Homo sapiens: one gene and its partners. The protein of the gene in region 6 interacts with the protein of the main gene of each other region in a biochemical or structural test. Each region holds a gene or a part of one and is shown on either strand. Other genes may lie near its edges.

Region 1 (3,500 bases), on a different chromosome or scaffold from region 6:
AGGGCGGCCAGCAGGGGCCCAGGGTCATGAAAGAGGAGTGGAGAGAGCAGAAAGGTTGCTCAGAGCCGGGGTGTGAAGGTGAGACTGACCGTGAAGAATGGGGAATCCAGGGCCATTGTCAGGCAGAAGCAGGAAGCAGCAGGCCCCACCTTGGCCGTCTGGCTGTGACTGCCATGTGGGGAAGGTCGGAGGCGTGGGGCAGGAGAGGGAGGACAGGGAGACTGGATAACGCCCAAGGGTGCCCCGGCCCCAGCGTCAGTCGGGGTGGCCGTCTGATTGGAAACAGAGGGCCAGGGAGAGGCTGGTGTCTGGGATCCCAGGGTTTCCAGACTGAGCATGGATGGACGAGGGGTAATGTGACCTGGTTTTGTGAATGAAGCTGGGCAAGTAGAGAGAGGGTGTATGACTTGCCAAGTCAGGAGGTGACATCGAGGGGGCATGTACGTGCAGAGCTGAGCAGAGGTCTGGCTGGACCCAGGTGAAGCCACAGGGGCGAGATTGCCTGGGGTGATCCGAGGTGTGATGACAGCAGGGAGGCCCGCGCCTCCAAGAACACACGGCAAGTTTAGGACAAAACAAATATCCTTCTGTAGGAGGCACACCCTTTCTTACACAGACTTTCATGCATAGGATTCCCTTAAAAGAGACCCTCCCAACCCTGCCCTCTCCCTGGCCCCCTGCCCCTCCTGCCCGCCTCTGCAAAACCACAGCCAACCCGCCACCACCTCGCCTTCCTGGATGACTCATTCTTTCTGCGTTGAAGCAGTTGCATCCTGCCTCTTGTTTATGATTTCTTTGTCCCTCTGATGCTTACGGATTGGCTCGGACGCTGTTAGCACCCGTCTCTTGCTGCAGGCCCACGTCGGGGAATCACAGTGTATCATCCTTCCGTGCGTGGGTCTCTATTCGAGAGGGAGTTTCTGTTCTATGTTTTGCTCAGTTGCCCCCGGTCACTCTTTTCCCACCCCCAAGCACCAGTGGCCTCGAGGCGGAGGGCTGGCCTTGGCCCTGCTTCACAGTAACCGCGGCAGCTTACCCGCGACACCTGCACGGGAGCGGGGCCAAGGCTCACCCCGCCCCTGCCGGGCCTCGCTCGGGTTCTTCCACCCTGCGTTCGCCTCGGACCGCTGTGGTTAGCTGTGAAATGCCCCTGCGGTCTGGTTTTCTCTCCTTTTCCGCACGGTTCTTAGTGTGTTATGTTGCTTTTCCGCACTGTACGTTGGAAGCTCTAGGGCTACGAAAACGCAGGCAGTTGCGGGGGAAGCGAAAAATCCCCGCCCTCATGGAAGTTCTGTTACGGTGGAGGAATCAGACCAATGATAAGAAGTCAGAAAATCAAAAGTAGTTTAAACAAGTACATGAATAAATAAGCATTTAAGATATAGTAAGTGCATGAGAGAAAAATAAAACAAGGCTGGGAGGTAGGGAATTCCGGGGAAGGGGGTGGCTCACATTTTAAATAGGCTGCTTGTGGGAGGACCTGCCATGTTGATCCGAGGTTAAGGTGACCTCCCAAATGAGCTCATCTGATGCACGTGGAGCCAACAGGTGAAAGTGTTGATGGAGTCACAGATTATTTATTTATTTATATTTTTAGGTGGAGTCTTGCTCTGTCACCCAAGTTGGAGTGCAGTGGCGCGATCTCGGCTCACTGCAACCTGCACCTCCCAGGTTCAAGCCATTCTCCTGCCTCAGCCTCCCTAGCGGCTGGGATTACAGGCGCCCGCCACCACGCCAGCTAATTTTTTGTATTTTTAGTAGAGACAGGGTTTCACCATGTTGGCCAGGCTGGTCTAGAACTCCTGACCTCAGGTGATCCGCCTGCCTCGGCCTCCCAAAGTGCTGGGATTACGGGCGTGAGCCACTGTGCCCCGCCGATTATTTATTTAGTTTTAGAGGCAGGGTCTTGCTCTGTTGCCCAGGCTGGTGTGCAGTGATGTGATGGTATTTCATTGCAATCTTGAGCTCCCCAGTTCAAGTGAGCCTTCCACTTCAGTCTCCTAAGTAGCTGGGGCTACAGTTGCCCACCACCATGCCCGGCTAAATTCTTTTAAAACTTTTTGTAGAGATGGGTTCTCACTATGTTGCCCAGGCTGGTCTGGAACTCCTGGCCTCAAGTGATCCTCCCACTTCGGCCTCCCAAAGTGCATAATTACAGGCATCAGCCACTGCACTTGGCCTACAGATTAATTTATGCCCAAGTGCCTTCCTGACAGAATAAGGTGGCTTTCCCCTCCTCTCACCCCTAGCATATAAGAAAGCTACATTAACCAAAAGGAGTATTTGGTAGTGTAACTCAAGGTAGAGGAAGAGACAGAGATTCTTTTTGCAAAATGACACGCAAGAAGCAGCCCCTTCTCACTCCAAAGTGGGCCTCTTCACAGCCTGGCTGTTTTGTGGGTGCTCCACCCATCCAGGGACTGGGGCTGCTGGGCCCAGTGACCTCTGACCTGCCAGGCGCCAAGCGGCAACAAAAGGGAGGGAGAGCTCTGGCCCACCGGGCAATTTGACTCTTCCTGGAGCCCTGCAGGGGGTGGTGGCCCCGAGAGGCTGGATCAGAGACCCTCAGGTCCGAAGGTCTGGTGGGCTAAATGAAGTAGAGAGGCCGCCCTCAACTCCACCCTGCCGGGATTCAGGCGGGCTCAAGGACGCAGCTTGGCAAGGACTGTCTTATGTATTCGCCTTGATGCGTGGTCTGGCAGGTTCACTGTAGTCTGTTGAATGATGTGTGTATCCTTTCTTCTGTTTTACACACCTGTTTTGAGAACCATTTACTTGTAGCACAGTCTGTGTATAAAGCCTAAGGTAGATGCAGCAGTGGTTCTCAAACCTGGCTGCATACATTTTGGGCAGTTTTTAAAATATCCCTTCTTGGGCCTCATCCCCTGGACATTCTGACATAGTGGGTCTGGGCTAGGGTCCGGGAATTAGTCTTTGAGTTTTGCAGCCACCAGATTTGAGATGCATTGAACCAAATGATTTCTGTGGGTCCTTATTCCTGATATCTGATTCCCCCCAACCTGCCTAAGCATCCCCAGGCTCTTGTGTCCTATGCCAGCCTCTCCCGCTCCTCGTGGGGCTGTGAGGGTTTGACCACCGTAAGCATGATGTGCCTGCAACACCAGGTCTCCTCCCCAGGCTGAATGCATGGATCTGTCCTCTTCTGCCTGGGGTGAGAGACAGCCTTCTCTGTGGGGAAACCAGCTACCACCCTGAAGAGCTGCCTCTGTCAGAGCACAAGATCCCCACCTAGAGACCCCCTCACTGCTCCCCTCCCACAGCAGCAACGGCAGCTCTGAGGTTCTGGACACCCCAAAGGACACAGACCTACCTTCACCCATGAGCCGTCCAGGAGACATTTGACAGCTGCTGTGTGCCATGTCCTAGGGGTAGGAATGCAAAATAAGTCAGAGGCCATCCCTGCTCCTGAGGCATTTACAATCCAGTGAGGGAGACAGAGGATTATAACACAACACAGAGCGGGGCACGGTGGCTCACGC
Region 2 (3,341 bases), on a different chromosome or scaffold from region 6:
GCACACTCTACCTAGGCCAGGAGATGCTGCCTGGACCTAACTTGGAACAGAGGCTTCCGCTTCGCCTACCTTGTTTCAGGCTTGGCCACTCCCACCCTGTCCCATCCCATCTGCCTGCTCCTTGGGTAGTCCTGAGAGCCGGGCTTACCTGCCTGACAGAAGCATGGATGGGGGAGGGAGACGGCTCACCCTGTTACCCAGAAGAGCAGCCACACAGGCCTCAGAGGCGTCACAGATGGCTGTGAGGTCATGGCCACCCTCCAAGGCCAGCACCACTGCGCCTCCTGCCAGGTTCATCAGTTGCTGCGTCATGTATCCAAAACCTAGAGGTTGGGAGGGGAGAAATGGGAGGGGCGGGAGTGGAGAGGTGACCCTGTTCTCTACCCCTGTGGCTTCCCTGCTTGCTTCCTCCCTAATAAAGAATGACTCACATGTATCAATCACTATTTCCAAAGTGCTTTCACATTGAATGTCGTACAAAACCTACTAGTATGCTTCACTCAAGGCTCAGGGAGGTTAAGGGCCTTGGGAAAGGCCCCACAGCTAGTAAGTGGCAGCAAGGTAGGACCTGAACTTGGGTCATTGACTCTAGCCTGTGTCTTTTTCACTGAGCTACACCCTCTCTTCTTTCTGTACTCTGGGCCCTGTGGCCACCCTCTATTCTGAGAGTGCTGCTTCTCTCTCCCCTTCCTCTGGAGGAGCTGCCAGCCCACCTGGAATCAACCCAGCTGTGGTGGGGAGTCCCACGGCTGAGCTTCCTGCCTACTGGACTTAAGTCCCCATGGGTATGACCTGGTCAAGCCCTCCGTGGTGAACCGGCCTGGTCCTGAGAAAGGGCTTGGGCTGTGCTCGGCTAGGAGATCCCGGGGAATTTCAGGACCAGCTGCCATACTCCAGTCCTCAGGCTGAAAGCCCTGGGCTGGCCACTGCCACCTTCCCTTTCTGACTTGGGAGTGCCTCCCAACTCCCCGCACCGCCTGGCTCTCTGTCCCTAACGTCCCCCTCAGCTGAGGCTCCCTTACATTTGGCAGAAACATGGTAGCCACCCAGTGGGGCCGGGTGACCCTCAGCAGCATCAAATCCAGCAGACACCAGGACTAGGTCTGGAGAGAACTCTCGGGCGATGGGCATCACGACTATCCTGTGAGGTCACAAGAAGTGGCGATCATCGTACTGTGCAGGGTTGCCAGGGGCGGTCCTGCCAACTTTGCGGTGGGGCACCCTGTTCTTAGGACTCCAAGGCTCCCAGTGCCCCAGCACAACTGGCAGATTTCTCTGACCTCCTTGACCTTGGCTGGCCACCCATGTCCCTGGCACACACAGCCTAAGGACTCAGCCCCCTAGGGGACTTAACTAGCAAGAGGCAGAAAGGAGCCAAGGATGGAGCACCAGAGGGAATGAAAGAGGAGTGTGTGTGACCATGTGTGTGTGCATGTGTGTGTGTGCATGCAAGCATCTGTGGGGTGCAGTGGCCGGAGCCACAGGGAAAGGGTAATCTCACAGCCTTGCGGAGATGGACTCTGGTCACAAAGCTTCAGGGACTACAAGTGCTCAGTCCTTTGGACTGAGTTGACCACACCCAGCTACTCACTACTTGAGAGCTGAGTAGGGGACAACTAGGTCCTCTGAGGTTCTGCGCCACCTGGCTACATTCTCTCATCCTCTCCCTCTTCCAGGCCCCCCCCCAGCTGCCTTCCTCTACCCCTGATCCAACTCTGGGGCCTGCTTGGGTGTTCTTCATAGCCCTGGGCTCTGAGAAGACTCCAGGAACTCCAGCCCAGGGCTCTCGTAGAATTAGCTGTCATGGAGATAACTCCAGAAAAGTGTTTGAAGATCCATTTCCAGAATTCTCTTTTCCCAAATAGAGTGGCAGCCTTCTCTGACTAAATGTGCCAGCTCTGCTCACTCCACCACCCACCTGCCAGCAATCAGTTTGACATTGGCTCTCGGTAATGTATGCCTTTGCAAAGCACCCTTTGACTTTTGCATTCTTCTCTCTGTTTGTCCTATTCTCACTGGCGTTCACCTACAATGTCTAGGAACTGGTGGGGACAGGCTGACAATCCAACTGATCACCTCCCCCCTGGTGCTCTTGGGAGAAGGGACAGGAGAGGGTGGACTTGCCCCTCTGGGCCCCCAGAGCACGTACCTGAAAGCAGCCAGGTACTCAGGATCCCCCATGGGGGGGTCCAGACCTCCAGCCCAGGCCACATTGACATTGAAGCCCTCACCGCTGCCAGCCCCTACCTGGAAAACAGGAGGCAAGAGAGACATGAGGACAGCAGAGTCCCAGAAGGGGAACACCAGTTTGTTAGAGCTGCCAGCCCAGCTCATCCAGCCTCCCCATTTCCAGGTGGGGAAGTTTAGGATCAGAGAGGCTCAGCAGTCTGCCCAGGATCACACAGCTCGTCATGACAGAGGCAGAGTAAGTGTCAGGAGGAGGTCAATGAGGCTGGAAGATGTGGCCCTGACATGCGGTTACCTCATCCACAGCCCCACTCCCCGGGAAGAAGTTGCCGTCGTCATGGCGATGCAGGGAGATGTAGAGCACACTGGGGTCTTGGTAGAAGGTTTGCTGGGTGCCGTTGCCATGGTGCACGTCCTGTGTAGGGAGACGGGCAGCGATTAGGGAAGGCAGAGAGATGGGGGCCAGGACAGGTTAGAAGGGTTTCAAGGTCAGTGGCCATTCTGAGGTCAGGACCCTAGACTGGGATCAGGAACCTGGGGTTCCTAAAGCCACACGGTCGAGTGGCCCCACGTAATCCACTGCCCGGCTCTGAACCTCGGCCTCTCTGTGCTGGACAGGGCTGGCTGTAATATGAGATCCTGAAGGAGAGGAGGTGTCCCAATCTCAGGCCAGCCCACCTGAGAGAGTAACTGTGTGGACATGGGGTTAGTGGCAAGGAGAGGGAAGGGTTCAGGGTTACACATATCAGGAACCACTCTGTCTTGCATAAAGTCATGAAGTTATGAGGAGATCAGAAACCAAGCTCGGTTACAGAGGGGCAGGTACACGAGGCCCAGCCCCATCCCTCGTAGGGAGAGCTGGGCCCTACACTCGACTCACAGGACCATGCGGGAACTCAAGTGTGCAAAGGTCCTCCACCGCTCTCAACTTCTGCTTAGAAATGTCTCTTACACAGCTGTCAGTGCAGAAGGGACATAGCTTAGCAGTTAAACGCAAGCACTCTAGAGCTAACCCGCCTGGGTTCAAATCCATCTCATGACTTACGAATGACTGTGTGTGAGTTACTTAATCTCTCTGTGCTCACTTTCATCTGTAAAGTGGGTTATAGTCAGGATTAAATCCATCATGTGTAAAACCATCAGTGTCTGGATGT
Region 3 (3,500 bases), on a different chromosome or scaffold from region 6:
AAAGAGAGAAAGAGAGGATTGGTAAGAACAATATAGACAACTGCTTGGAAGAGTTGGGCTTTAAAGGATCCTGGCTACAGACAGCTATGGGATCAAGAGGGGTTTGTTTGTTTGTTTGTAAAAATGGAGAAATAACAGCATGTGCGTTAACTGACGGGAACATTTGACAATGCAATAGAGAGAGGGGAGAATTGCTGAAGGAATGTCCTTGAGCAGGAGTGACAGGAGAGCTGGGTTTCCAGAGCCCAGCCAGAGGAATTGGCACCAGGCAGGTATGAGGAGAGTCCATCCACCATATCAGAAAGGAAAACCACAAACACGGGTGCAGATGCAAGCAAGTAGACAGATGTGGCGGAGGATGCTTGCAGATGTTCTCTTCTGGTTACTCTATTTTTCTCAGTGGAATAAGAAGCAAGGTCTTTAGCTGAGAATGAGGTTGTGCAAGGAGGTATTGGAGGTTTGAGAAGAGGGGTTGCCAAAGTCATTAAGAGAGTAGCATGAGATAGTGAATGAACTAGGGAGATGGACATGGCTACCAGGCAGTACTGGGGGTCACTTGGGTGCTGTGATTCATGCCAGTCAATGGAATCCTAAATAGCTGTCTAAAAAGGACACTGATTTTTTTTTATTCTTTCAACGGACACATAAAGGACACTTTTTATGTGCTAAGAACAGAAAGAAATCCACTTATAGGCCGGGCGCAGTGGCTCACACCCATAATCCCAGCACTTTGGGAGGCAGAGGAGGGTGGATCACTTGAGGTCAGGAGTTCAAGACCAACCTGGCCAACATGGCAAAACCCCTTCTCTACTAAGAATACAAAAATTAGCCAGGCATGGTGGCGTGTGCCTGTAATTCAGCTACTTGGGAGGCTGAGGCACAAGAATCACTTGAAGGTGGAGGTGAAGTTTGCAATGAGCTGAGATCATGTCACTGTGCTCCAGTCTGGGCAAAAGAGTGAGATGCTGTCTCAAAAAAAAAAGAAAAAAAGAAATCCAGTATAAATTAATTGGAGGGGAAAGTAAGATTCAGAAGAATAGGTATTCTAAGATCCCATTTATATTATATATTATATAACTATATTTTATATATATGTGTGTGTATATATATATATATATATTTTTTTTTTTTTTTTTTGAGACAGAGTCTTGCTCTGTTGCCCAGGCTAGAGTGCAGTGGTGCAATCTCGGCTCACTGCAACCTCTGCCTCCTGGGTTCTAGTGATTCTCCTGCCTCAGTCTCGCAAGTAACTGGGACTATGGGCATGAGCCACCACGCACGGCTAATTTTTGTATTTTTAGCAGAGATGGGGTTTCACCATGTTGGCCAGGCTGGTCCCAAACTCCTGACCACAAGTGATCTGCCCGCCTCAGCCTCCCAAAGTGTTGGGATTACAGGTGTGAGCCACCGCGCCCGGCCCCCATTTCTATATTAAAAAATAAGTATGTGTTTTTGCATGCATTGAAAAATCTGCAAGGAGACATGCCAAGGAGACATGTCACCACAGCAGTGACCATGGGACATATAAAGGAGGAGGGTTGGAAATTGTTTACACTGTTTTGTTGTAACTGTTTTTAACAAGAAAGTGTACTGCCTACTTAAAAATATAAAAGAATAGTTATACCTAAATACATAATAAAGCACCCTCAGTATCATATTCTGAAATACTATACAGATGAGCTGAGCTCAATATTGTTCTTTTTTTTTTTTTTTTTTTAGACGAGTTTCACTCTTGTTGCCCAGGCTGGAGTGCAATGGCATGATCTCGGCTCACTGCAACCTCTGCCTCCCGGGTTCAAGCGATTCTCCTGCCTCAGCCTCCCGAGTAGCTGGAATTGCAGGCATGCACCATCACGCCTGGCTAATTTTGTATTTATAGTAGAGATGGGGTTTCTCCATGTTGGTCAGGCTGGTCTCGAGCTCCCAACCTCAGGTCATCCGCTTGCCTCAGTCTCCCAAAGTGCTGGGATTACAGGCGTGAGCCACCTCCCCCAGCTGAGCTCAATATTTAAAAAAAAAAAATGGCAGGCACAGTGGCTCACAACTATAATCCCAGCACTTGCAGAGGGCAAAGTGGGTGGATTGCTTGGGCCCAGGAGTTCAAGACCAGCCTGGGCAATATAGCAAGACCCTGTCTCTATTAAAAAATAAAAAAAGATAAAATCTATTTGACTGAGTATTTCTATTTCTAGGAATTTATTCTCGGGGAAAAAGTTGAATAAATATGTCCAAAGATACATGTATAAGAATGTTTATTGCAGTGGGGTTTAAAATTGTGAAAACTGGGACTCAGTCTCGTGGTGGATGCTGCCAGATGCCCCTTATTAGTGGCTAAGAGTTCACACCACCACCTTCTACAGAGAACTGCCAGTGGAATGGATGCTCCACAGCGCCCTTGCCTCAGGTGGGATGAATTCTGTGGAGCAATTCATGCTCGAGAGCTCCCCGCGGGGTCACACTGAACTGGACAGCCGCTGAGCCCACATCCTCGCTCAGCAGTACCCCACCCTAGGCTGCATTCCTCCTTCCCTTCCGAGAGCACGTTCTCAATAAGTCACTTGCACAAGGCTCCTCTGTTCTGCCCCGAAGGATCTCACCCCAGACAACCCTCATCAGGGGATGGTTAAACACACATGACGTGTCCAAACAGCAGAAAGCTGGTAAGCACGGGGAAGGAAGGCGTGAGATAAATCATACTAGGATGGAATGCTGCTAAATGAAAAAAAAAAAAAGCCAAAGAACATAGCATATAGTATTTAGCCCATGTGTATGTATGTTTATATAAAGACATTCATATATGAACAGAACAAGAATTTACATAAATATGTTAACAGTGGTTATCTCCAGATGGTTCCATTATGATGAACTTTCAAAGCCGTTCATGTCTGTTTTGTCTGAATTAAACAAATTTTTTTAATGTATGCCAAGTCAATGGCAAGTGAATTTTTTTTTTAAAAAGTGATGTATTATCATTGTAACCATGTAATAAAGAAACAGCTCTGAAGACAAAGAGACCTGGAGTCAAATTGCAGCTCTACCACCTACCAGATGTGATCACCTGCTCCTCTGAGCCTCAATATTCTCATTTCCAAAATGAGGAGAATATCTAACTTAGGGAGTTGTGGTGGGGATGAAATGACACAAAGCATAAAGGATACTTTTCTCTTAGCAAAGTATCTGCCACATAGTAAGCATGCAATGATGGTAAACATTTTTATAACTTTTACTTTACAGTGGCCGTCTTTAGGTAGTGAGATTATGAGATTTATTTTTTCTTCCTACTTTTGTTTCAAAATTGTCTTTAGTCAGTACCTTAGCAATAATCAACAAGTTATATATTTCAAGTCTTGTATCAATGATGTGTCTCCATATTTGGGGGTCTGTAATGAACTCCCCAAGAGAAAAGAGAATGCATTGCCTGACCCTTCTAGTTAGAGCGTCAGTACCCATAGAATGTGCATATTTCAGCTACAAAATCAGGGTAGGGGAAGAAACTGGAC
Region 4 (3,500 bases), on a different chromosome or scaffold from region 6:
GCTGTGGCTTAGGGACCTTCTCATGACAGAAAAGACGCTTTAGAGTTTTGAGAAATCTTTCAAACAAAAGTTTGCTTTCAAGCATGAATAACACTGAAAGCAACACAGTGAGATAAGCAACTCTTTCACCACTAAGGATACCCTCCTCTTCCACCACCACTCTGGAAAACAAGTTTATCTGTGTCACCAGCTTCATTGTCTCAGAACTCTTATTGTAGACAAGTTCCCCCACTATGTGTAATCACATTCAGATATGGCAGCTTGAGCTATTTTTCTAGTCTTGAAAATGTTCAACTCAGTCATTGTTCTTCATCTCCCACTGAGAACAGATTTTTAAAAGAAAAAGTTTATTTCTTATGCAGCAGTGTAATCTGTAACCTGATTCTAACCATCTGAATGAGAAACTGCCTACCTCACCATAGATGTCAAAAAGGCTTCTGGGAGGATGTCAGGCACGTGGGACCTGAGAGCCTGTGAGAGACAGCCGCAATGTCCCAGAGTGCAGATCCCAGGCCAGCAACAGCAGGCCAGACACTACTCCATCCCCAAGACACTTGTTCTTTACCCAGGCACTTTTAAGTATTTAAGCAAGTATTTATTCTGTTCAACTCAATAAGCACCTATTGACTTAACCACCAGATACAAGAGAGCAAGGAAGCAAAAAGGAAGGAAATACAGAAGCAATGGGAGAACCTAGCCTAAGCATCACTTCCAGCTGAATCTATTTGTAGAGTGTTAGTTTGGTCATTAATGGTCTGAGTATCTAACTGCTGAATGAACGTGTTTGTATCTATTCCCCTTTTTTCTGTAGGAAGAGGCTGAATGATCAGCCCCCCCCAGGATTGAAAACTGTCCTGCTGCCAAATGATTATTCATCTATGGATCATCATACAACCCCTACACAATTCACTTACAGTCTACTTTTCATCTTCCCTCCTTCGGAACAATTCCTGGTACAGCATTGTCTTGTTATTTCATCCTATTTATTTTCACTTCTTTCCCAGGGCAACACTCCCTCTAGTGTCTATGTAGGGCTCTCAGGTTCCACTCTTGGTACACAGGGTGAAGGCAAAAAGGGAACTCAAGCCTACAACTCTATGGGTATAGATCACCACAAAGTAGTGGATTGTACCAGTGTGATAATTCTGGGGAACAGGCTGCAGATATTCTACAGATAGCTCCAATCCATGTGATATGCCCATTTCACAACAGGCACAAATACAGAAGAGGAAAGGAAAAATGTAACATTGAGGTCTAGCCCATGACTTTGGCATACATGAGTCTTTGGCACAATGGGATCTGCTTGTCAACCAGCCCCAGCAACCCAGTGTTCTCCAATGTTCTAGTAGCTACACACTTTACTCACTTCCCTCAAGAAGTCTCCCTTGATTAGCTGTGAGTTGTATCATGGATGCCAATTCTGAGAGAAGCTACTCTTCATCTTTCTGGATCCCTTAACTCTCCATGCAATAAAAGCCCCGAAATAATGTTAAATTTATTCATAGCTTATTAGTGTAATCATCTAATGAATATTATTCTGTTTCTACTACAAATTCTGAGTATGAATTTCAAGAATACAGGTCCCCAGTCATTCACTTCTAGATCCTTTTCAATGTCTACTTTAGCACGACATAAAAGATAGACATGGCAAAGACTCATTGACTGGGGACATGAACTATGGGAGGTGGTTGAAATGAGCATCTTGATGAGAACTGGGTTCTAGCCAAGGCCTTGCCATCAGCTCACTGGGAAACCTTGAGCAAGTGCCTCCTTCCTCTGCTTCAACATTTCCATCTGAAAATTAAGGGAAGGCCCCTTCCAGATATAAAAATAACAACTAAACTAAAGTATCTTGAGTGCTTGCTACAAATGGGTCAGGCACTTCTTTTAAGCACTCTGCCCTGTACAGTCTCACTTAATTCTTACAACAGCCCAAGGTAGAGATACTATATCATCACTCCCTTTTTTCAGATGAAGAAACAGCAGAGAGGGTAACAACTTGCCCAATGTCACACAGCTATTAAGAAACAGAGGCAGGACTTGAACCCAGGCACCTGGCTGCAAAATCCATTGATCTTATTTAGTATGTGGCCTGTTTCAGGTTCCCAGTCTATCTGTTCTCAACAAATCCAGAAGAGGATTGCATTCATGATGAAATCTCTCCACAAATATGAATTCACACAAGTTGTACCATATACCCATACTAAATAATCCCACAACCCAATATAATCCTTGATTATCCTACATAGCTTTATTTCCAGTTTTTCCCCTAAAGAAGGTTTTTTCTCTTTCCAGTGCATGCCAAGTAACAGTCCCCTACTTAGCCAAGGGCACAGTTTTACTGACCAAGAACCCTGCTGGCCCCACTCTGCTGCAGGTCCCTCTCATCTCAACCAAGCAGGGATGGCTTCCTCTGATTCCCTGCATGCACTCAATAGCAGAAAACAATCTGTGCAATCCTGAGGTTCTTAGACTCCATTATTTTTTCCAAATTTACTATAGAACATTTATTAGTGTACTATAAACAACAGTATTTCTATAAATAATTAAATCCAAACTACACTGATCAAAATAAATGAGCAAAATATTCCTGGTTGTGATGTAACCAGGCTTGATTCACTCACTAACTCAAATTACAAAGTGACTCACAAGAGGCCCCCATTAACAATGGTTAGTAAGATACAGCTTGTCCAACATTAACTAGCTTGTTATTCATTGTCTGCAGCCACCGCGGTGGGTGGGCAGGTTGACTATAGAGTATGGCCCCAGAACAGAAGGAAAGAATCTATTCCTAAATCTCTCTAACTAGCCTCATACGATACCCATCCTGGGGCCTCAATCTATCCTACCTATAAAATGGGCACCTCATCAGAGTGAAAACACACAAATCCTCTTAGAAGGAAAATGCTCTGTTAACCTGAGAAGAAAGGAGAAAAATGGGTGTGAAGAGGGGATGGCTCTTCCAAGAGAAAAAAAAATAAGCAGGGTCCAAGGCAGGCTGCCATGTTTCTGTCTGAGCCTCATATCCTCATCTCTATCATGAGTGATTTGATGAAGACAATTCCCAAGTGCACTTCCAGTCTTGACATTCTGCAAGTCTCAAATTCCTGTAGTATGTCCCACAGGGATCCTCTCTTCTGCGAGCTCATAGCCTGAAACGATCACTTGACAATTAACCACATATCACCCCATGGCATCTGTCTTGTTGTCATGTGTTATTTAACTTTACAGAAGAGCAGTCTCACATCCAAAGCATGTCGGCAGGACCATGAGGCAAATGCTGTCTTATCCTTCTTTGTCTCCTCTCTATCACACTTCTACCAACCCCACAGTTTCTAGGACAATGCCACATACACAGGAAACACTCAGAAAATGGATGAATGTCTTATGGGGGTGTCCATCTGATCTCTGAAGTCCATGAGAAGCCAGGATTGTTAACTAGTCCTTATTTCTATCCTCTTACTAAGTAGTGTAGAGACCCCTCTGAATCTTATGTTAAC
Region 5 (3,939 bases), on a different chromosome or scaffold from region 6:
CGAAGACATGTCTAAGAATTCCAGGGCTCTGTGGGGTAATTTGAAAACCAACAATCTAGCCTCACCCCTTGGGAGAATGAGACTGAGCGTGGAAAGGACTTATTCACAGCCTTACAGTTAGTTAGAGGCAAAAACTGGGACTGGAACTCGGTCACATTTCCTAAAACCTTGTCTGAGGCTCTGCAATTTCTCAGCTGCTGTGATGAGGATGATTGCCTCTTGTTCTGTCTAACCTCCCAAGTAAACTCCCTAGAATGAGTTTCATGGCCCCGTCCCATCTATATCTCTCAGTATGAAACCTGAGGCCACGCTGGGGTCAGAAGATGGGGGAAGCTGGAAACATCTTCTTCCTGGGCCAAACGAGGCTTCTGGAAGGAATCTGTGAGTCTGTTCCCCTCTCTACCTCAGCCCTTTCTGTCCAGGGGTGTGGGTGAGAGATGAAGGGAAAGAGTAATCAACCAGCTCCTCCTGGTCAGGAAGGCTGGGCAGGAAGGAATCCTCTGCTGTCCAGATCTGAGGTGTGCAGAAGCTCTTCAGGAAAGTGGAGTTCACTGCTTTGGAGGCCAGGAAGGTTTGCCCCAGGAAGGCCACCCACAGCAGGAAGCTGTGTACCTTAGGGAAGAGTGAGCCCCACATCTGTGGGGCAAAGGGCAGTGGCCACAGCTGGGCCCTTTGCCCAAATCACCTTCCCCAGGTATGCTACATCCACAAGCCTGCACTTGCCTCTGCTCCTCCCCATAGAAGTACAGGCACAGTCACATAGAACTCATGCAAACACACTTACGTATCACATATATGAATACATGCAAACATCCACAAAGGCACAAAAACACCCACGTGCACATAAAATAAACACATATACAGATGCTCCTCAACTTGTGATGGGGTTATTTACCAATAAACCCATTGTAAGTTGAAAATGTGATAGGTCAAAAATGCTTTTAATACACCTAGCCTACCAAGCATCATAGCTTAACCTAGCTTACCTTAAACTTGTTCAGAGCACTTACATTAGCCGACAGTTTGGCAAAATCTTCTACTACAAAGCCTATTTTGTAATAAAGTGTTGGATTTTATGGAATACTGTACTGAAAGCATAGCACTTTCACATCATTGTAAATCAAACCATCCTAAGTCAGGGACTAGCTGTACACGTACACGCCATCCACACACAAACTCCAAACTTCCCCAACGGTGTCCGCCTGCAGGAATATGTGTGTCCACACACAACCACACACGCAAAACACAGGGCCCAGCTGGGAGAAGGATAAAGGAGGCTGTGGAGGAAGTCAAGAGACCAGCTGGGGATCAGCTAGAACAAGAAGCCACTGTACGACAATAAAAACTACAAAGACAGCAAGAAGGACCTTTCAGTGGGCCCCAAAATTCTCTCCTTCTAGTATCTTTCCTCACCCACAACCCATTCCCCAGGGGCCAGTCCGACTCAGGTTGGAGGAATTATCTCTTCTTCAAAGCAAAAAAAAAAAAAAATAAAAGAAGAAGAAGAGGAGGAAGAAGAGGAAGAGGGAGAAGGAGAAGAAGAAGAAAGAAACACCTCAGCCAGGCACAGAGCCCAGAAGTGAGGTCTATGCAGTTGGGTCATACTCTCTAACCTGACTCGAATTTATCCTATGACTTTGGTCAGGCCCTCAACCTTTTCTGAGTCTCCATCCGCTCATCTAGAAAATGTCCCTGTCTCCTGAGACCTTAGGGGATTGGGGAGCAACCTCTGATCCCCAGCTGGGATTAGGGGGGACAGGGGGCATGAGGGGAAATAAATGTTTTCTAAAAGAGCCAAGGACAGTAGAAACTTAAGCCCCAAACCCGAGGAAGCCCGAGTGGAGAAGATGAAGTTCGGAGGGGTGGGGTGAGAGAGGAGAGGCCTGGAGGGGCAGGAGGGGCCCCAGCACTTACCTCCTTCTCGGCCTTGGCCTCCTCCACTGTCACGGTGCTATGATTCTTGTGCTCCTGGAACATGCAAAGGTAGCAGATGCAGGTCTGGTCGGTCTGGCAGAAGAGCTCCATCGTCTTGCCATGCACGGGACACTTGCGGGCCTCAAAGTCCCGGATGGGCTCGAGCAGCTGGTGGTCTCGGAAGGCGGCGCCCTCCAGGTGGGGCTTGAGATGCAGCTCGCAGAAGGAGGCCTGGCACACCAGGCAGGACTTGACCGCCTTCTGCTTGTTGCCGATGCAGGAGTCGCACAGCACCTCCTCGGAGCCGGACTTGGACCGTGAAAAAAGGCCCGTGTCGGCCCGGGGGTAGCTGTTCCGCCGGGTCTCCCCGGGCTCCATGATGGACACCGTGGGCTTCCGGGACTCCGAGAAAATGGACTTGCGCAGCTCGCCCTTTTCGGCAAAGGTAACGGGTGGCTTCTTGGCAGCCCCCAGCTGGAGCCCTGCGTACGGCGACCTCTTGCCTTCCATAGAGTCCATGCTGAAGTAGTTGGAGTTCTTGTCGTCCCCGGACTCGACAAACTGGATGATGGGTCGCCGCCACTCATTGCCCGCGAACAGGGCGCTCCTACCTTCCCCTGGCTTCAGGGCGCTGCCCAGGCTCTTGCCCTCAGCTGCCTCCCCGCCGTGCCCGTTGGTGGTCTTGGCATCCTTGCCGTCAGCCTTGGTGCCATTCTCCAGGCTGCCACTGGGGCCCGACGGGCTCCGGGCATCCCTGGCTTCTGGGCTCGACCCGTTGCTCCTGGAGGCATCTGCAGCTTCCATCGCAGGGTGCTTGGCTGAGCTGTTTCAGGCTTGCTGGGGTTCAGGATAGGTGACCTTTCTGGCAGGCGTCTCGGCAGGGAGTGGGGCAGGCAACCACGAGGACTAGAGACACACCTGTGAGGAGGAGGAGGGGGAGGAGGCGGAGGAGGAGGAGGGGGAGGAGTGGAGGGGAGGAGCAACAGGCACAAGCCTGACACAGCGGCCCGGGAGAAGCAGGGAGCCCCGCAGCCAGCAGAGCAGATAATTGCACAGGAACCACGCCCTGCACATTCATCCCTAACCTGATTTTTAAAAGAAGTGTTTTTTCTCCCCCAGCTTATTTTCCACAACTCAGCAACCAGTTGGGCTGCTTCCCTCTGACGCACTTGCTTCTCATCCGGGGAGCGGGGAGTCTCCGTCTTCACAAGTGGGCAGGCTTCACTGAGCCCAGAGGCCCCTGGGGCAGAAGGTGAGGTGTCTGCAGAGGCCTACCAGACACAGGGCTGTTAACTGGGTCACACAAGCCAAATAGCCTTGTAATTTGCAGGCCTGAGTTTCAGAGGAAAGATTGTCCACCCTGGGACTGTATCGCTGCTTTTCACCTTAAGGGGGAAGGATGGGTTCCATTTGATTTGGCTACTGAGTATTGAACCCTACTTGCCAACCTCCAGGCACTTTCCTAGGTATTGCATATATTACGAGCTCATTCAGGCTTCCCTAAAACCTGTTCAATTACCCCTTTTTAACAGATGAGAAAACAGGCTTTAAGAAGATAACTCACTGGCCTAAGTCAAGTGGCCGAGCTGGGATTTGAACCCTAAGCCTTTGAGAAGCCAAAGTCCCTTCTTCAGCTGGGTGGTCATGGAGTCACCTGAATATCTCATCAGAAGATGGCTTCTGAGAGTCTGTCCTATCCCAATGGCCCCAACAAGATACATATAGACCTTAGATTATTGCTACCTGCGTGGATTCAAATGACCAAGGCACAACAATGAGGGGAATCCAAGCAATGCCAGCCCAGGTGGTTGGGTCCTCAGGGCCCAAACACTTGACTCTCACCTGTCTCCACACTTGGTCTGCTGTGTGACTCAGAAAACACCTGCCCATCCTCTCTGGGCCAGGCCACAGGCAATGCCCTCCAAAAAGAGGTCAGCAAAGTGTGAGATTCAGATAATCTCAGAAGTCACCTGTTCAAATATGACTATCATATAAATACAGACCTCAGGAAGAAAAGTGAGAAAA
Region 6 (3,500 bases):
TATTCAGTTAACTTGTCCAAGGTCACAGGACTGGTAGATGTCAGAGCTGGAATTTCACCCCAGGCTTGACTCCAAAATCCATACTCTTTCCACTGTATTTCACATTCTTTCCTATATAATAACAGAGGTAATGTGGGTCTATGTGGAGAGTGGGTGCTGGAGGACAATGATGTGAGGCATGAAGGGTGTGGAATGTGGTCACGGAGCATGTAGTTTGGCCGGGGGAATGTGGTGAGGCAAGAAGTCAGGCAGTAACTACAGTTTGGGGCTAGGAAGGGGAGTGGAAAAGTTTGAGGACCCTCAGACTGTCAAATATGCCAGGAGTACAGAGATGGGAAGACATGACCAAGGGTAAGATGACGCATGCCAGGAGCTCTGAGCAGAGAGGGAAGACAGCAAGGAGGAGGTTGGGAAGTTCAGTCCCCACTTGTTCTTTGGTTTTTTTTTTTTGAGACGGAGTCTCGCTCTGTCACCCAGGCTGGAGTCCAGTGGTGCAATCTCAGCCCACTGCAACCTGCGCCTCCCGGGTTCAAGTGATTCTCCTGCCTCAGCCTGCCGAGTAGCTGGGATTACAGGTGCCTGCCACCACGCCTGGCTAATTTTTATATTTTTAGTAGAGATAGGGTTTCACCGTGTTGGCCAGGGTGGTCTTGAACTCCTGACCTCAGGTGACCCGCCCACCTCGGCCTCCCCAAATGCTGGGATTACAGGCGTGAGCCGCCGTGCCTGGCCCCCCTTGTTCTTAGAGCAGCTTCTGCCCAGAGCTGGGAATGTGCTTGGCTCCCTTGTGATGCTCACATTTTTGGACTCACAGCCAAGTTCACAGGCCAAGCCTGCCCTCCCCACTCCCATCCAGCTCTGGCTCCTCTATCATTCCCAGAGCCACAGCGACCCTCGGAAAGCAGCCCAAATCATCCTACTGCGGCCCACCATGGCAGAAAGTGTAGAAAGGACAGGCTAGAAAGAAGGGACACAGAGGTAGCTCAGACCCACCAGCCACTCTGGCCACAGGGTACTCCAGGTTGGCAGCCCCACAGGGCTCAAAGGAAAAGGGAATATGTGGGCCACATGGCACAGCCTGCTTTGGATAGGGTCTGCCTGTCTGGGGGAAATTGCTGCTGAGTCCCTACCTCCCTGCTCCCCTGGCAGGCCCCACCACACTGCTCCACACTACACGTTTCCTCTCTTTCTGGGGGTCATCGACAGGCCACCAAGGCTCTGCTGACTCAAAACAATCAGCTGATCTTCAGCAGCTTTGGGGAACCTCAGACAGGTCTTACTCTCCCACCATGGAGCTGAATGGCTGGGGTTTACATAGCACTTACACACACACACACACACTCATACCCCAAATGGAGTCAAACAAATAATGACTCAAATTCCAATTCTACCACTTACTGGCCCTCTTATCTTAGAGAAGTTTCTTAATTTCTCCAAGCCTTTGTCTCATCCTGGTAAAAGGGATCCTTAAATGCCTGGCATGATCCAGGCATACAGTAAAAGCTAATTATATTGTCCATTTTTAGCAGGATCCATACACTATTTCTAACTACGTATACATTATTAAGGGCAAAGCAAATAAACCTGTTCATCATTCATTGTTCATCCAATTAAAATGCTTTGACTGGCAGGGCACGGTGGCTCAGGCCTGTAATCCCAGCACTTTGGGAGGCCAAGGTGAGCGGATCATGAGTCAGGAGATCAAGACCATCCTGGCTAATACGGTGAAACCCCGTCTCTACTAAAAATACCAAAAAAAAAAAAAAAAAATTAGCAGGGCGTGGTGGCGGGCACCTGTAGTCCCAGCTACTCGGGAGGCTGAGGGAGGAGAATGGCGTGAACCCAGGAGGCGGAGCTTGCAGTGAACCAAGATCGTGCCACTGCACTCCAGCCTGGGCGACACAGCGAGACTCCCTCTCAAAAAACATACAATAAAATAAAAATAAAAAATAAAAAAATAAAAATAAAATAAAATAAAATGCTTTGGCTGAGGGCCCAGTGGGTTTCAGGTCCTGAGCTTGCTATTGTAGGTTTTCTCATGAAACATCAGACCCAGAGCCTGCCTTGTTCTCAGAGAGACTATGGTCCAGTGGATAGTTCATGGAAATATACTGCAATCCAGGAAGTGGTTGGAGCCGTAGGAGCAGCACATGTGTTCAATGGATAGACATCTGCTGAGTGTTACACAGGTGTCAGGATATAAAGATAAAATATACCAGGCACGGTGGCTCACACCTGTAATCCCAGCACTTTGGGAGGCCAAGGTGGGCGGATCACTTGAGGTCAAGAGTTCGTGACTAGCTTGGCTAACGTAGCAAAACCCCATCTCTATTTAAAATACAAAAATTAGCCAGGTGTGGTGGCACACACCAGTAGTCCCAGCTATTTGTGAGGCTGAAGCAGGAGAATCGTTTGAACCCGGGAGGCAGAGGTTGCAGTGAGCCAAGGTCGCACCACTGTACCCCAGCCTGGGTGACAAAGCCAGGCTCCATCTCAAAAAAAAAAAAAAAGGATAAAATAAGAGAGTGCCATGACAGTTCTCACAGAAAAGCTCAACCCAGAAGACAGGAGAATTTGAACCTGGAGGAGACAGGGGAAGAAGAGTCTGCAGGTGGAAGGCCCAGAGGGAGGACAGTGGAGCAGGAAGCCACACAGCTAATGACCTGATCGCCATGCTGCCCTCTCTCACAGCTCAAGGCCAGACTAGCAGTAGGCACCTTACTTCTATGAACCATCCACCATGCCCTCAATGCTGAAAATGTTTATCCTTCCTCCATTTCTCAAATAACTTAAGATGGCAGGCCAGGCGCGGTGGCTCATCACCTGTAATCCCAGCACTTGGGGAGGCCGAGGTGGGTGGATTGCTTGAGGTCAGGAGTTCCAGACCAGCCTGGCCAACGTGGTGAAACCCCATCTCTACCAAAAATACTAAAATTAGCCAGGCATGGTGGCTCATGCCTGTAATCCCAGCTACTTGGGAGGCTGAGGCAGGAGAATCACCTGAACCCGGGAGGCGAAGGTTGCAGTGAGCCGAGATTGCGCCACTGCACTCCAGCCTGGGTGACGAGAGCAAAACTCCTCAAAAAAAAAAAAAAAAGAAAAAAAATTTAAAAAGATGGCTGGGCCTACCCTGAGCTTGACAAATACTTTTGTAGACCAGATGGGACTTGAGGAGCCTCACAACTAGCACCTCAAAGGCTGAGCCAGGAGTGGAGAAACTGGAGAGACAGCAGCCTTCCTCCTCTGACCCACTTTCCTTCCTCTAGGGTCACTGACCTCCGCCTGACCTTCCTCTTGTGGGGCTCGGAGAAATGGTGGCCTTGTCACCTCTACAGTTTTCCAAGGCTTACCACCTCCCTCGGAGAGGATTCATCAGTAAAATGGTGATAATAATGACACCTAAAATTGTGCGATTAAGGATTTAGATTTTTGGATCCAGATTCCTGATGTCAAAGCAAGCTCTGCTCTGCCTCTTATTAGCTGTGTGACCTTAGGCAAGT
Region 7 (3,500 bases), on a different chromosome or scaffold from region 6:
CTGGGCTTCGTCTCAACAACAAAAAGCTGTGTGGAAAGATACACATAAAATTTACTATCTCAACCTTTTTTTTTTTTTTTCTTTTTCTTTGGAGACAGGGTCTGGCTCTGTCATTCAGGCTAGAGTGCAGTGGTGAGGTCAAGGCTCGCTGCAACCTCCACCTCCCAGGCTCAAGCATTCCTCCCACCTCAGCCTCCCGAGTAGCTGGGGTTACAGGTGTGAGCCACCAGGGCCAGGTAATCTTTTTATTTTTTGTAGAGACAGGGTTTCACCATGTTGCCCAGGCTACAGTCGAACTTGCGTAGGCCTCCCAAAGTGCTGGGATTACAGGTGTGAGCAGCCACGCCGGGCCCATCTCACCCATTTTTCAGTGTATAGTTTCTGTAGTGTTAGGTACATTCACACTGTTACACAACAGAACTACAACTCTGTACCCATGAAACCCTAACTCTCCTTGTCCCCTCCCCCAGCGCCCAGCCACCAGCATTCTCCTGTCTCTCTGAGTGTGACTACTCTAGACACTGCATAGACGCAGAATCATAGGATCTGTCCTTTTGTGACTGGCTTATTTCACACAGCATGATGTCTTCAAGGGTCATCCACATCGTAGCATGTGTCAGATTCTCTACCTTTTTAAGGCCGAATAATTTTCCACTACATGGATAGACCACATTTTGCTTATCCGTTTATCTGCCAGTAGATACCCAGGCTGTTTCCACCTCTTGGCCGTTTTGAATAATGCCACTATGAACATAGGTGTATAGGTATATGCCTTTAGAAAAACCAAAGTGGCTGGGCGCGGTGGCTCATGCCTGTAATCCTAGCACTATGGGAGGCCGAGGCGGGTGGATCACCTGAGGTCAGGAGTTCAAGACCAGCCTGACCAATATGGTGAAGCCCCGTCTCTACTAAAAATACAAAAATTAGCTGGGTGTGGCGGCAGGCGCCTGTAATCCCAGTTACGTGGGAGGCTAAGACACTGAGACAGGAGAATCGCTTGAACCCGGGAGGCAGAGGTTTCAGTGAGCCAAGATTGTGCCACTGCACTCCAGCCTGGGTGACAGAGTAAGACTCCGTCTCAAAAAAAACAAAAAAAAACCTAAGGTGTTCTGGATTTATAAACCCCTCTGACCCTGAGGGTGTCCGAAGGGCTTGTGGTAGGCAATAATTTCCAGCACTAGAGAGGCAGCGTTGCTTGGTGGGTAAGAGTATACACAGGTGACAGACTGCCTGGGCTCAAATCCAGGCCCCCCACCCCACACCCCCACCCCCGCCCCGCCCTGCCACTTACTAGCTGTAGGATCTTAGGCAACTTATCTTGTGTGCCTCAGTTTCCTCATCTGTAAGGTGGGAATAATAGCACCTACCTACCTTGCAAGGATTGAATTATATGCACAAAGTTGTTGAAACAGTGGCAGGCATAGAGCAAAGAGTAAATACTCATTTTAGTCCTGAGTCACACTCCTGATAACATCATTTCACAGAGTTGGAATTGGAGGCCTGGGGCTTGCCTGACGTCACACAGCTTAAAAGTAGTGAGGTTGGGACAAGACCCAGGCACTCTAACGCCTGCATGACCATAGTAGGTTCTGATCATGTAAAAGGATGCTGTTTCATGGAAGGGCTTACTGTGCAAGACAGCCATGCTGGGGCCCCAGGGGTCAGTTCCCACCTGGGTCAGGGGCTCACTGGGCTCACAACCTGGAATCTCAACTCCTCCACCCTCCACGAAGGGTGCTACTCCATGCCAAGGGCTTATTCTGTGACAAGCCTACACACTTTTTTTTTTTTTTTTTTTTTTTGAGACAGAGTCTTGCTCTGTCGCCCAGGCTGGAGTGCAGTGGCGCGATCTTGGCTCACTTGCAAGCTCTGCCTCCCGGGTTCACACCATTCTTCTGCCTCAGCCTCCTGAGTACCTGGGACTACAAGCGCCCGCCACCACGCCCGGCTAATTTTTTGTATTTTTAGTACATACAGGGTTTCACCGTGTTAGCCAGGATGGTCTCGATCTCCTGATCTCGTGATCCGCCCACCTCAGCCTCCCAAAGTGCTGGGATTACAGGTGTGAGCCGCCGTGCCCCGCCACCCACACACTTTTATGTGCCATGTCGTCACGATTCAGCGAGGACGGATCCATTAGGAGCACAGACTCTGGGGTCAGAGGACTTGGGTTCAAATTATGGACCCACCACTAGCCTTGAGACCTTGGTCAAGCCACTGAGCTTCTCTGTATCTGTGTCCTCTTCTCTCAAAAGAAGAGAACAATAATATCTACCTTGGTGGACATTATGAGGATTGAGTGAATATATACAAGCACTTAGAATGTGTTTGGCACAAGGTGGAAACTAGAAATAGAACTGGACATAGCCATAAACAGGCCAGGCACGGTGGATCACGCCTGGAATCCCACCCAGGTGTTGTACACATCTGTATTTAAGGCCCACGTGACACCAGCCTTGAATGTCTTAGGAAGACTGTAGATTTGATTCTTGAAGCAGCAGTCAGTCATTGTAGGTTTGTTTGCAACGGCATGACTGAAGTGAAAGCTGTGCTTTCGCTGTTGGGGGAAATATAAATTAGTACAGTCACTATGGAAAATAGTATGATGATTTCTCAAAAAACAAACTAGAAATAGAACTACCGGGGCGCAGTGGCTCACGCCTGTAATCCCAGCACTTTGGGAGGCTGAGGTAGGTGGATCACCTGAGAGTTTCAAACAAGTCGGACCAACATGGTGAAACCCCATCTCTACTTTAAAAATACAAAAGCCAGGCATGGTGGCGCATGACTGTAATTCCAGCTACTTGGGAGGCTGAGGCAGGAAAACTGCTTGAACCGGGAGGCAGAAGTTGCAGCGAGCTGAGATTGTGCCATTGCACGCCAGCCTGGGTGGCAGAGCAAGACTCCGTCTCAAAAAAAAAAAGAAAAACGAAGAAGAAAAAAAGAGCCATAAACAGAAAAAAGAAAATAGCCATTTCACAGGTGGGGAAACTGAGGCACAAAGGGTTTGAATGACCTGCCTACAGTCAGCCTGCTCAAAGATGGCAGGAACAGGCTTCCTATCAGTTCTGCAGACCACAGACCCCAGACCCCATGTGTGGGGATGCCTGAACACAGGCACCTCACTCCTGCACTGCTTCAGGGACCTGTTTCTGGGCACACCCACACATCACCATGTGCCGACAAACGCACGTCCCAGCTAATTGTCCCAATCGTTCCCAGCGTGGGCCAGAAACAGCTCCTGTGTCTGGCACGTGCCCTTCTCCGGAAGACCCAGATCCTCATCCTGGACGAGGCTACTGCTGCCGTGGACCCTGGCACGGAGCTGCAGATGCAGGCCATGCTCGGGAGCTGGTTTGCACAGTGCACTGTGCTGCTCATTGCCCACCGCCTGCGCTCCGTGATGGACTGTGCCCGGTAAGGCTCCCGCCCCGGCCTGACCTCACAGCAGCCCTGCAGTGGTGGGGGAAGGAGGCGGAGGCAGTCCTGGGCCACTGGGC

Evidence for each region.
Region 1: the proteins of DVL3 (region 6) and GNG4 interact in a test that uses a peptide from one of them, tested with the Homo sapiens proteins (one large-scale study listed by IntAct).
Region 2: the proteins of DVL3 (region 6) and HDAC7 interact in a test that uses a peptide from one of them, tested with the Homo sapiens proteins (one large-scale study listed by IntAct).
Region 3: the proteins of DVL3 (region 6) and MYOZ3 interact in a test that uses a peptide from one of them, tested with the Homo sapiens proteins (one large-scale study listed by IntAct).
Region 4: the proteins of DVL3 (region 6) and SORCS3 interact in a test that uses a peptide from one of them, tested with the Homo sapiens proteins (one large-scale study listed by IntAct).
Region 5: the proteins of DVL3 (region 6) and TRIM29 interact in a test that uses a peptide from one of them, tested with the Homo sapiens proteins (one large-scale study listed by IntAct).
Region 7: the proteins of DVL3 (region 6) and ABCC6 interact in a test that uses a peptide from one of them, tested with the Homo sapiens proteins (one large-scale study listed by IntAct).

What each region holds. Positions count from the first base shown.
Region 1 is NC_000001.11:235,639,785-235,643,284, reverse strand, and holds part of GNG4 (guanine nucleotide-binding protein G(I)/G(S)/G(O) subunit gamma-4), read left to right. Parts: intron 1-444; exon of another isoform or gene 445-1,020; intron 1,021-1,036; exon of another isoform or gene 1,037-3,242; intron 3,243-3,500. UniProt on the Homo sapiens protein: Guanine nucleotide-binding proteins (G proteins) are involved as a modulator or transducer in various transmembrane signaling systems.
Region 2 is NC_000012.12:47,785,563-47,788,903, forward strand, and holds part of HDAC7 (histone deacetylase 7), read right to left. Parts: intron 2,603-3,341; coding exon 2,483-2,602; intron 2,248-2,482; coding exon 2,150-2,247; intron 1,142-2,149; coding exon 1,023-1,141; intron 324-1,022; coding exon 190-323; intron 1-189. UniProt on the Homo sapiens protein: Responsible for the deacetylation of lysine residues on the N-terminal part of the core histones (H2A, H2B, H3 and H4).
Region 3 is NC_000005.10:150,664,251-150,667,750, reverse strand, and holds part of MYOZ3 (myozenin-3), read right to left. Parts: intron 2,238-3,500; exon of another isoform or gene 1,720-2,237; intron 1-1,719. UniProt on the Homo sapiens protein: Myozenins may serve as intracellular binding proteins involved in linking Z line proteins such as alpha-actinin, gamma-filamin, TCAP/telethonin, LDB3/ZASP and localizing calcineurin signaling to the sarcomere.
Region 4 is NC_000010.11:104,647,790-104,651,289, reverse strand, and holds part of SORCS3 (VPS10 domain-containing receptor SorCS3 precursor), read right to left. Parts: intron 1-3,500. UniProt on the Homo sapiens protein: Plays an important role in modulating synaptic transmission and plasticity in the hippocampus, probably by affecting the trafficking and localization ofAMPA-type glutamate receptors in the postsynaptic density.
Region 5 is NC_000011.10:120,135,314-120,139,252, forward strand, and holds the start of TRIM29 (tripartite motif-containing protein 29), read right to left. Parts: upstream 2,801-3,939; 5' UTR 2,719-2,800; coding exon 1,915-2,718; intron 1-1,914.
Region 6 is NC_000003.12:184,158,377-184,161,876, reverse strand, and holds part of DVL3 (segment polarity protein dishevelled homolog DVL-3), read right to left. Parts: intron 1-3,500. UniProt on the Homo sapiens protein: Involved in the signal transduction pathway mediated by multiple Wnt genes.
Region 7 is NC_000016.10:16,150,495-16,153,994, reverse strand, and holds part of ABCC6 (ATP-binding cassette sub-family C member 6), read left to right. Parts: intron 1-3,222; coding exon 3,223-3,417; intron 3,418-3,500.